3 linked regions of the Homo sapiens genome follow. The protein of the gene in region 3 interacts with the protein of the main gene of each other region in a biochemical or structural test. Each region holds a gene or a part of one and is shown on either strand. Other genes may lie near its edges.

Evidence for each region.
Region 1: the proteins of LEPR (region 3) and PTPN11 form a complex in vitro, tested with the Homo sapiens proteins (one study listed by BioGRID).
Region 2: of the proteins of LEPR (region 3) and PTPRC, one has a biochemical effect on the other in vitro, tested with the Homo sapiens proteins (one large-scale study listed by IntAct).

The regions. Positions count from the first base shown.
Region 1 is NC_000012.12:112,488,447-112,491,946, forward strand, and holds part of PTPN11 (tyrosine-protein phosphatase non-receptor type 11), read left to right. Parts: coding exon 1-64; intron 65-577; coding exon 578-729; intron 730-737; exon of another isoform or gene 738-1,542; intron 1,543-2,571; exon of another isoform or gene 2,572-2,978; intron 2,979-3,500. UniProt on the Homo sapiens protein: Acts downstream of various receptor and cytoplasmic protein tyrosine kinases to participate in the signal transduction from the cell surface to the nucleus. Positively regulates MAPK signal transduction pathway. Dephosphorylates GAB1, ARHGAP35 and EGFR.
Region 2 is NC_000001.11:198,712,040-198,715,539, reverse strand, and holds part of PTPRC (receptor-type tyrosine-protein phosphatase C isoform 1 precursor), read right to left. Parts: intron 2,588-3,500; coding exon 2,468-2,587; intron 1-2,467. UniProt on the Homo sapiens protein: Protein tyrosine-protein phosphatase required for T-cell activation through the antigen receptor. Acts as a positive regulator of T-cell coactivation upon binding to DPP4.
Region 3 is NC_000001.11:65,602,168-65,605,667, reverse strand, and holds part of LEPR (leptin receptor isoform 1 precursor), read right to left. Parts: intron 631-3,500; coding exon 431-630; intron 1-430. UniProt on the Homo sapiens protein: Receptor for hormone LEP/leptin. On ligand binding, mediates LEP central and peripheral effects through the activation of different signaling pathways such as JAK2/STAT3 and MAPK cascade/FOS.

The DNA.
Region 1 (3,500 bases), on a different chromosome or scaffold from region 3:
GGAATTGGCCGGACAGGGACGTTCATTGTGATTGATATTCTTATTGACATCATCAGAGAGAAAGGTGGGTCATCTGGTGGGCAAGAAGCGACAGTTTCTGTTTTTAGTTTATGGAAGGAAAGTGCTCACGAAAACAGTCTGGGGAAGAGAGGTTGAATGGGAAAATTCTTTCACAAAAATCTGGGCTGAAGACTTCAGTGTGTCTGCCTGAGAACAGAAGTGACACTATTTGAGCTTTTGGCATAAAATGAAGTCTAGGAGCTGCAGAACCCACTGCCATGGCCTTTTGTTGCATACACAGTGGTGGTCTCTATCCAGCCACCTGACCTTGTTTACAGTATGGGGTGATTTGTTGGCAAGTGAGGGAATCCTGACTTCTGCCACTTCGTTATTTATGTAGTCTTCTGGGATCATTGGTATTGGTCAGAAGTTCAACACTGTAGCCATTGCAACATGCTCAGTTAAAACAGCAAAGACTAAATTAGCATTGTCTCTGAGTCCACTAAAAGTTGTGCATTAAACAACTTCATCCTGGCTCTGCAGTTTCTCTTTATTCTTCATGATGTTTCCTTCGTAGGTGTTGACTGCGATATTGACGTTCCCAAAACCATCCAGATGGTGCGGTCTCAGAGGTCAGGGATGGTCCAGACAGAAGCACAGTACCGATTTATCTATATGGCGGTCCAGCATTATATTGAAACACTACAGCGCAGGATTGAAGAAGAGCAGGTACCAGCCTGAGGGCTGGCATGCGGATTCTCATTCTCTTGCTAGGCCTCTTGGATACGCTCTCCTTTTGAGCAGGAGGACAGGCTCTGATAGACAACTGTTTGATTTCGGAATGGGAAACAAACTCCCAACTAAAAGGGCCTCTGGAAACTGTCAATTATTCTCCACTTCTCAGCTCTGATTTTTCACTGCAGAGGAGCTTAGGGAAGGGCACCATCCTATCAGCCTGGCCTGCCAGATTGAAGAACTGCCATGCAGAAAGGTTCTGATGTTCTCAGGCTCATGTGGCAAGCGTAAAACTCAAAGCCTTGAAGTTTCTAGCCTGTTCCAGCCTTGATCCAGGCCATGTTTATCCTGATTCCATCCTTTAAAACGAATGCCTCACTCTTAATAGCGCACGGCAGTTTGAACCACTAATTTGGTCGAGTTGGAAACAGTGAAATTTCAATTTTAATAAGCTGTGCATAATGAAGAGGAATGTGGAATTGGAGCCTTTCCATCTGAAGCTATTCATAACAGGCACAAAGCTGAGTTAATTAGGAATATGCTGAGATGAAGGAAATGAGGAGAGCTGCTCTTTTGGGGGCTGTGCTTCTCTCCCCAACCCCTCAACCCCATTGCCATGCTGCAGATGGGGTGGTGTCTAAACATCAGTGGCGAGTGCCTGCATTACTCTGCTCGTTGCCTTCCAGAGAACTCAGCTTCTCCAAATGCTGAGCTCTTTTCAGAATGGGACCTGCCACCAGTATTTGAAAGATTTCTAGCCTAGCAGAACAGCAGCCACGTTATCAAAGTTTGGTTGGCCAAAGGAAGGTACTTGCTAATTAGTTTAGTAGGTTTTCAGTCCGCACAGACATACGGGATTGTTTTATTGTACATAGACATCTTCAGAAACAGTGTATGTATAGAAATGTAAGGTCAAAATTTGAACCTCAGTGCTTTAAATCTGAATTTGTATTAACTGATATGAAATATTTAGACGGTTACTTTATTTTATATCTGTCTTCCATTATACTTAATTTGGCTCAAGAATAGTTAGGCAAAAAGTTGCCCAAAGAGAAGGATCTCCTAGTAAATACAAAGAGAATGTAACATAGTTGCTACAAGTTGGAGCATGTTCAGGGATGTCTTTTTTTTTTTTTTTTTTTGAGAGAGAGGTCTCTCTCTGTTGCCCAGGCTGGAGTGCAGTGGTGTAATCATGGCTCACTGCAGCCTCAATCTCCCAGGCTTAAGCGATCCTCCCACCTCAGCCTCCCAAGTAGCTGGGACTATAGGCATGCGCCACCACACCTAGCTAATTTTCGCATTTTTTGTAGTGTCACAGTTTCGCCATGTTGCCCAGGCTAGTCTCGAATTCCTAGGCTCAAGCAGTGCTTCTGCCTCAGCCTCTCTGAGTAGTTAGGACTACAAATTTGTGGCTCCATGCCCGGCTAATTTTTTTATCTTTATTTTGTAGAGACAAGGTCTCACTGTGTTGCCCAGGCTAGTCTTGAACTCCTGGGCTCAAACAACCCTCCCACTTTGGGTTTCCAAAGTGCTGGGATTACAAGTGTGAGCCACTGAGCCCAGTGACCTCTGGGTTTTAAAAATGTGTAGGCTTCAATTATTTATTTTAAAAAATGAAATCCTGCAATATATAGTTTTCTGCGTTGTGTGGTTTGAATCAATCTGGGAACTGGCTTGCTGGCTGATTGTGGTAAAGTAAGAAGTACTTAATTTAGTAGAAAGTTTAAATGGCAGACATAACATTAAACCCAGCTGATTTATAAATGAAGCAAAAGAACAAAACTCATTCAGGATAATTGGTTATTCTAAAATACAGTCATTTCTAAAATTATGAAGTGTTCAGGACCTTTGGGAGTGAAAGAATTTGCTAAAGAAGGATCAGTGAAAAAAAGGAATGATGGGTGAAGAGCTGTGGAGAAGGAAGAGAAGAAACAGCACAAGGAAGGAAGAATATAAAATCAGATGTGGGAATCCAGGGGAAAGTGCAAACGAAGCAAGATTGAGAAAATTCTCAAGTTTTTATAAACAGTTCTCACACTCTGCCAGTTCCTTGGAGGTAGACTTTTTTGTTAACTTCCAACTACAGTAGTGAAAAAAAAAAAAAAACCCTCAAATTTGCAAAAGCAGTCTGTGGAATTTTCTTTACCCAGCTTTCCTGACTGTTAACTTTTTAGCACACTTAACTTTATCATTCGTTTATTCTCTCTGTTTAAAATTAAAAATGTAAATTTTAAAAAGTAAAATGTTTGTTGGTTACAAACATTTATACCCCTTTGTCTCTAAATATCATTTCATTTTAAAAAATGAATAATCTAAGCCTACACATTCTAAAATGTGTATATTTTCTAAAAATAAGGGCATTCTCTTACATAACCAATGTCACAATTATTTGATACAGTGATCAAAATCAGGAAACTAACATTGATATAACACTATTATCTAACCTACAGACCATCTTCAAATTTTGTCCTGCTAGTATCTTTTATGGGTCCAGGGTCACACAGTGCATTTGGCTATAATGTATCTTTTTTCTCTTTTTTTGAGACAGGGTCTCACTTTGTTGCCCAGGTTGGAGTGCAGTGGTGCAATTATGGCTCACGGCAGCCTTGACCTCCTTGGGCTCAGGTGATCCTCCCACCTCAGCCTCTCGAGTAGCTGGAGACCACAGGTGTGCACCACCATGCCTGGCTAAGTTTTGTATTTTTTGTAGAGATGGAGCTTCGCCGTGTTGCCCCGGCTGGCCTTGAACTCCTGGGCTCAAGTGA
Region 2 (3,500 bases), about 130 Mb from region 3:
TCCAATAAAGCACAAAAGATCTCTTCCCCAATTCCCCAATTACCAAGAAGCTTCACTGTCACTTGCCATCATTAAGTTAACGAGATAAAACTGCAGTTCTCCAAAATATCTTAAGCTAAAAATGTGAGGAAAAATAAACAAACACACTTTGGGAGGCCGAGGCGGGCGGATCGGATCACACGAGATCAGGAGATCCAGACTATCCTGGCTAACACAGTGAAACCCCGTCTCTACTAAAAATACAAAAAAATTAGCCGGGCGTGGTGGCGGGCGCCTGTAGTCCCAGCTACTAGGGAGGCTGAGGCGGGAGAATGGCGTGAACCTGGGAGGCGGAGCTTGCAGTGAGCCGAGATCGCATGACTGCACTCCAGCCTGGGCGACAGAGGGAGACTCCCTCTCAAACAAACAAACAAACAAAACCAAGAGCAGAAAGGAAACAGATCAAGCTACTGAACTTGAACATCTATCACATTTTCTGTTAACCTCAGTTTCATCATATGAACTATGAAGATATGTATGCACATCTCCACTGAGTTATTAAAATAGTTGATAAAATCTTTAAATAATACATAATTAAAAAAACCTGCTAAACCAATAAAACTAAATTAATGTCAATTGCATTTTTTCTCCTCTTTTAATCCCTCTCTTTTAGAGACACTGAAAAAATTAAATTGTGAAGTAATGAAGTGAAATTTAATATCTGATTAAAAAGTAAACTGCAAATTTCATAGACTTTCTTCCTGTGGATTTTTAATAGTAATTTTATTTAAAATGGTGAGAAAAGTTAAGTTGCCTTAACGATACTATAATCCTATCAACTCTCTTTGCCTTAGGTAACATGGGAGAGGAGACAGGTATATGTTTGAGATGAAGGAGAAAACAAAAGCGGAGCACGCTGTTTAGAGTAGAGCTGGCTCCAAAGAGCCCTTTATGCAGTGTCAGGGCATGGTCCAAAGCTGCATTCAGTCACCAATCGGCAGCTTTGGAGAAAAGAAAACACACAGCCTGATAGCTAGCCTCCCCTTCTCAGCCATTCAATCCCGTTTAAGTGTTCTATGTGGACAGCTGTTAAATTTGGGTAACACTATTTAGTTGCCCAATAAGAAGGACCCATGCTAGTTGCTGTAATGAGTTGCTACTAACTCATTACATCCTTTTTACCCTAATTATGCAAATACAGTGGAAATACAGTTTAAAAAAACTGTAAAAATATAAAAGAGCCATAAATGCATAAAATGTCTACCATATACTCTGACATCGACAATACTCTCTAGTAGAGAGAGTGTAGACATTGAGGAATGCAGAAAGGGATAGTGAATAGAAGATTCAGAGAAGAGAAAAAAAAAATGAACAATGTGTTCCCATAGAAGCTACACAAAGTGTTTGTAAAAGAGGTGTCCAATGAGGCAGACAGTACCTCTGCTGTTTTATCTTCCTGGAATTTCCATTTTTCCTTCCACATAGACTTAACTTTTAAATTTATCATAACCTCAAATATATAGTATATATTTATTTTCCTTGGCCTTTGAATGTTAATTTGAAAACTACATGCATATTTAACTTTGCTTTAGTAGTCTGATTATTAAGACCTAAAGACACTAGCAAGAAAAGGCCATTAAAATATAAAATAACATAATGAAGAAAAATAGCCTTTCACTTTTCAAGTTTTGAAGTGTATGTCTGGTTCCTTCCCCACAGCACAGAGTGACAGAATTCTATGAGGTTCACTTCATTCCTATTTTAACCTATGGATAAAAGAATAGAGAAAGGGCTATCCCAGGCATTGAGGCTGCTCTGAGATACTCCACTGATGTTACTTTCTACAAACAATTTAGATACTTTAAATTGTCCAGAAGATATTTGTTCTCTTAAATAGCATCTCATTTGAACATTTCATGAGTGAACTAGTCATAGCACATTTCTTTCTTCTTCTTTTTTTTTTTAATTGCATTACTTCTGCAGAAGTCTAATTCTAAACTTAGAACTATGCTCCCAAGATTACACCAAACTGGCCCCAGCGGCTACATGGGCCCATGTTCATTTTTATTCACCCAACATTTTGTCTGTATTATTAGCTGAAACAAGTTTTACAAGGGGTTTGCTTGTTTGTTGGTTTGTTTAGGAGGCTGAATGATGAGTTCAAAGTGAGTCAAATCACTTACATAATACTTGCAAGACAGAAATGAGTGTTGTCATCCAGAGGTTTTCTGTCTCTAGGCTTTGGAGCACAAAGATTTAAACTAAGACCAAGAAGGACAAGCAAATATTTAGAATGTTCTGGATTTTAGTCATTTCTGGGGCTGGAAAGCTTTGAATGAGTGGAAGCAATTCTAAGATCAGGGAGTATACTATGCCTATGCAGTCTCTAAGCAGAGAGCTTTGTGACTCACTGGCTCAATAAAAATTTCTAGTACTTTCAAATTCTTGATTTCTCTTTTCTGATGAAATTAAATTCTACACAAATTACCTGTCTCTTTTATATAACAGAGGGTAAAATTATGAAATGATCTTTGAGGGGGATTCCAGGTAATTACTCCTTGATGTGCAGCTTCACTTCTACAAAAAATAATCTGAGGCTCTCCTGGACCTGTTAAAAGAATAAGAATGTTATGTAATATGAAAAATAAGACATGGATAAAGCATTCTTCATATTATAAGCATGCATTATTGATAACCATATTTTGACAAATGATGAATTCAAAATAAAATTTAAAGAAATGCATCTGGGCTCATTTAATTTGTTTTAGAGTAAATTCCTTTAACAAAGTAAATGTCACACCAGATTGGCACTGTGAAACCTAAGCATTCCACTGACTTGAAGATATCTAAGAACCCCCTCTTCCTTTCATATACATTATTCATATATATTCTTGCCCAGATACTACCTAAAAATCCTGGAATTTGTAGATTTTGCTGTGCTAAAAATCTGGCATTCATAGCACCAATAAATTTAGCAGTCATTGAGTAGCACTTGTCATTGCTTCCAGTAACTAGTCATTTGAAACTGAGAAAAACTGATAAATGTTTAAATAAAATGTCTGAAGTAAAATTTACATTAAAATGTACCCATTTGAGATACAGTTTAATGCATTTTTAACAAATGTATACATCCACATAACCAACACCACAATCAAGATAAAGAAAATTTCTGTGATCCCAAAATGTCCTTCTGTGGTACTTCCCAGTCAACTCAGCTCCTTTGACCAGACTCACGTACCTTCTGATCAACTTTCTGTTAACTACAGATTAAGTTTGTCTTTTTACCCATTGCATGTAAATAAAATGAAACAAACAGTAAGTACTTTTTCACTCCTAACATATTGCACTCAATGTAATGTTCTGAAGATTCATTCACTTAGTTGCATGTGTCATAGTTAGAATTTTAAAAAATTATCAGTAGTTATTGTAAAGATACACCACATTTTACCTAGGATTCAACAGTGAATACACATTTGGGCTGTTTCCAGGTTTTGGCTACTATGAATGCATCTGCTTTGTCA
Region 3 (3,500 bases):
CCTACATAGCCTCACAAATTAAAGGCTTGAGTTATGAGTACTCAGATTATTGAGAACCTCAGAATATTCAAATTAAACGTTTGGATTACAAATATTACATGTTTTCATAACTACATTGGAACAAAAACATAAAATAATGCCTTATTTAGAAAAACACTACTAAAATTCATTCATAATGACCCATGTATTTCATCTAATAGTGTGCAGAAAATATTCCTATTGCTAAAAAAAGTCTGCTATAAATAATTTGAAATGAATTCAAAACTGTAAAACTTCCTAAGGCTGATTTTCTCAATACCACTGTAAACAGGAACAATTTTTTTTTCAAAATCTAATGTGATCAGAAAATGGCAAAATATAACATTAAATCTGCATCAATCTGCATACAAATCTGCTAACACAAATGAAGACACAACGCAGCTTGACATACCCACAGAATCAGGAAGGACACATGTTGGTGGAGAGTCAAGTGAACCTAGAGAGTGATTGATCCTAATCCACATTGTGTAGCCAGATAATAGGAAGATTGGCTGGAAAATGCATTCATAAAAACCATCACTCTGCAAATAGCAATCTTTGGGCTCAGATATGGGATGAATAGATGGAATATCAGAACAGTAAAGGCTGCTCCTTTAAAAGATACAAAAATAGTCAATTAGTATACATTAATAAAAGCAACAAGAAGATATCTGAGAATTCTGATTTGTTGTTTAAAACAGCAGTCCCCAACCTTTTTGGCACCAGGGACCGGTTTCATGGAAGACAATTTTTCCACTAATGGGGGATGGGAGATGGTTCAGGATTTCGGGATGAAACTGTTCCACTTCAGATCACCAGGCATTAGATTCTCATGAGGAGCGCATGCCCAGTTCACAATAGGGTTCTGCTCCTCTAAGAATCTAATGCTGCGCTGATCTGACAGGAGGTGGAGCGCAGGTGGTAATGCTGCTCTCTCACCTCCCGCTTTGTGGCCGGGTTCCTAAGAGGCCACAGACAGGTACCGGTCCGTGGCCCAGGGACTGGGGACCCCAAGTTTAAAAGACAGGCAGAAGGCCCGGTGCGGTGGCTCATGCCTGTAATCCCAGCACTTTGGGAGGCTGAGGCGGGCTGATCACTTGAGCCCAGGAGTTCCAGACCAGCCTGGGCAACATGGGGAAACCCTGTCTCTACAAATGCACATCTGTAGTCCTGGCTACTAGGGAGGCTGAGGCAGGAGAATCGCTTGAACTGGGGAGGCGGAGGTTGCAGTGAACGGAGATGGTACCACTGCACTGCAGCCTGGGCGACAGAGGGAGACTGTCTCAAAAACAAAATAAAATTAAATTAAATTAAATTAAAATAAATAAAATACAGACAATTTCACTCCATCTAAAAAAAGACATTCTTATTAGAAAGGCATTTTTTAATTTTTCCCAATTCTATATCTTTCCACAGAAACTGACAGTAACTCTTATTAAATATTTCATTAGACACTAAGCAGGGATGCAAATGAAATAAATACTCTAAAAAGAAGAAAATGATCCAGTTAGAGACAGAACCTACAATAATTTGAAAATTAAACAAACATTATGTATTAGTGATAGAATATTTAAAATATAGATGAAAGTAGTCATGGAGCATTCCTGAGATGGCAAGGAAGGCAAATTCCTCACACTTTGAAGAAAGAATTAAATTTCACCACAAATGAGTGGTGAATATAATTTTCTAGTTCAAATTAATATAAGTTAATATAATACCAATTTCAGATATGTATGTGAATTATATAACCATGTATATTCCTCATTTTCTCAGAAAAGAAAATTTAAAAAAAATTTTATAAGTGAGTCCTAGCCAACACTCCACCTCAGAACCCATAAAGCAGGGGTGTCCAATCTTTTGGCTTCCCTAGGCCACACTGGAAGAAGAACTGTCTTGGGCCACACATAAAATATACTAACGATAGCTGATGAATCAAAAAAAAAAAAAAAAACCAGTTGCAAAAAAAATCTCCTAATGTTTTCAGACAGTTTATAAATTTGTGTTGGGCTGCATTCAAAGCTATCCTAGTCCACATGGGGGCCCCAGGCCATGGGTTGGACAAACTTGACATAAAGTCTTTTTCCTCTTCTTTGAAATAACCTCTTGGGCCAATGTTTGCTCTGAATACTATATTTAAATAGCTGAAGTAGCAATTACTCTTTCCAAAGAGATGGGAGTGAGGAAGTTAGAAGAAGCTAAAAAATCTATATTCTTCTGTCATTTTCTATTTTCTATACCACTTCTTTTTCTTGTCTTCTCAAAATTACAATCATGAATGTGTGTGTGTGTGTGTGTGTGAATAAATGGTGGTGCGTGGGCAAAAATGAAAATGAGGAGTGAGGGGTCATCTGGGGGTAGAAAATAAGAACAAAGTAGAAGCACAGTACTAGTACACTTGAAATCGAAAAGTTGGCATCATTATCATGACAGCAAAAACCATATATTGAATATTTACAAGGAGAAATTATACCATGTGATTATAATTAGATGAAATATGTCATTAACTCTCGCAGAAACACTGTAAGTCCTATTATTCTCTCTGTTTTACAGACAAGGAAATTGAGGCTTAGGGAAGTTAAGAAACTCACCCAAGTAAATGTAGTTTCATAGTTATTCTGTAAATGTTAATAAGAGAAACAAGGCATGGGGCTTAACATAATAGTTTTCCATAAACACCTTTTCTAATGTGAAAATGCCATGAAAAGAATGTAAAGACAGATTATAAAAGTAAAATTTCATATCATGAACAATTCTACTGATTTTAAAATACTCATATTAGGTAGGATGAAGGCAGCTATTTGAGAAATGTACGAATTGCCACATTTTTTTCCTAACGCTACATAAGAAGAGACTGGCAGCATTAGGAATAGACTTCAGATCACAGTATTTGAGAGAAGGGATTTATTTTTCTAGTTGAAAATTTATATTTTAAGAATAAATGAGCATGTTATACAAATTGAAAGTCTCCACTACAAATAAAAATATAAATTGGGACACAGTGTTTAACAGCAGTATATATTTACTTGACTACTACTATGGGATATTTTTAAAAATAAAAATCTATTATATAATCAAGGGTTGTATCATTTTAGATAAAATGATTTTAGAAAGAAAGGGACCACTATAAGACGATGCCTTGAATTCTTTTTAAAACATAGAAGAGTAAAAATAAACAAGCACAAATTACTTCTCATTAGAACACATTACCCTTTATTAACCATAAGTATTTATTTCCTAAGTAATCTCACTCAGTTCTAAAAACCATTCATATTATCTCTTATAATCTGTTTTTACCTCTTTTTTCCAAAACATTAATCTTTAGCCAAATGATACGAAACTTTTATAATCTTTCACATTCTCCTCTAGTCAACTAAGTCAAATTAAAATATATATAAACTACATTTTCTTGCATTTCATTCAAGAGTTAAAATACAAATTTTTCAGAATTGATTGATTTTCAGAAAAGATAATTTGAAGTAAAA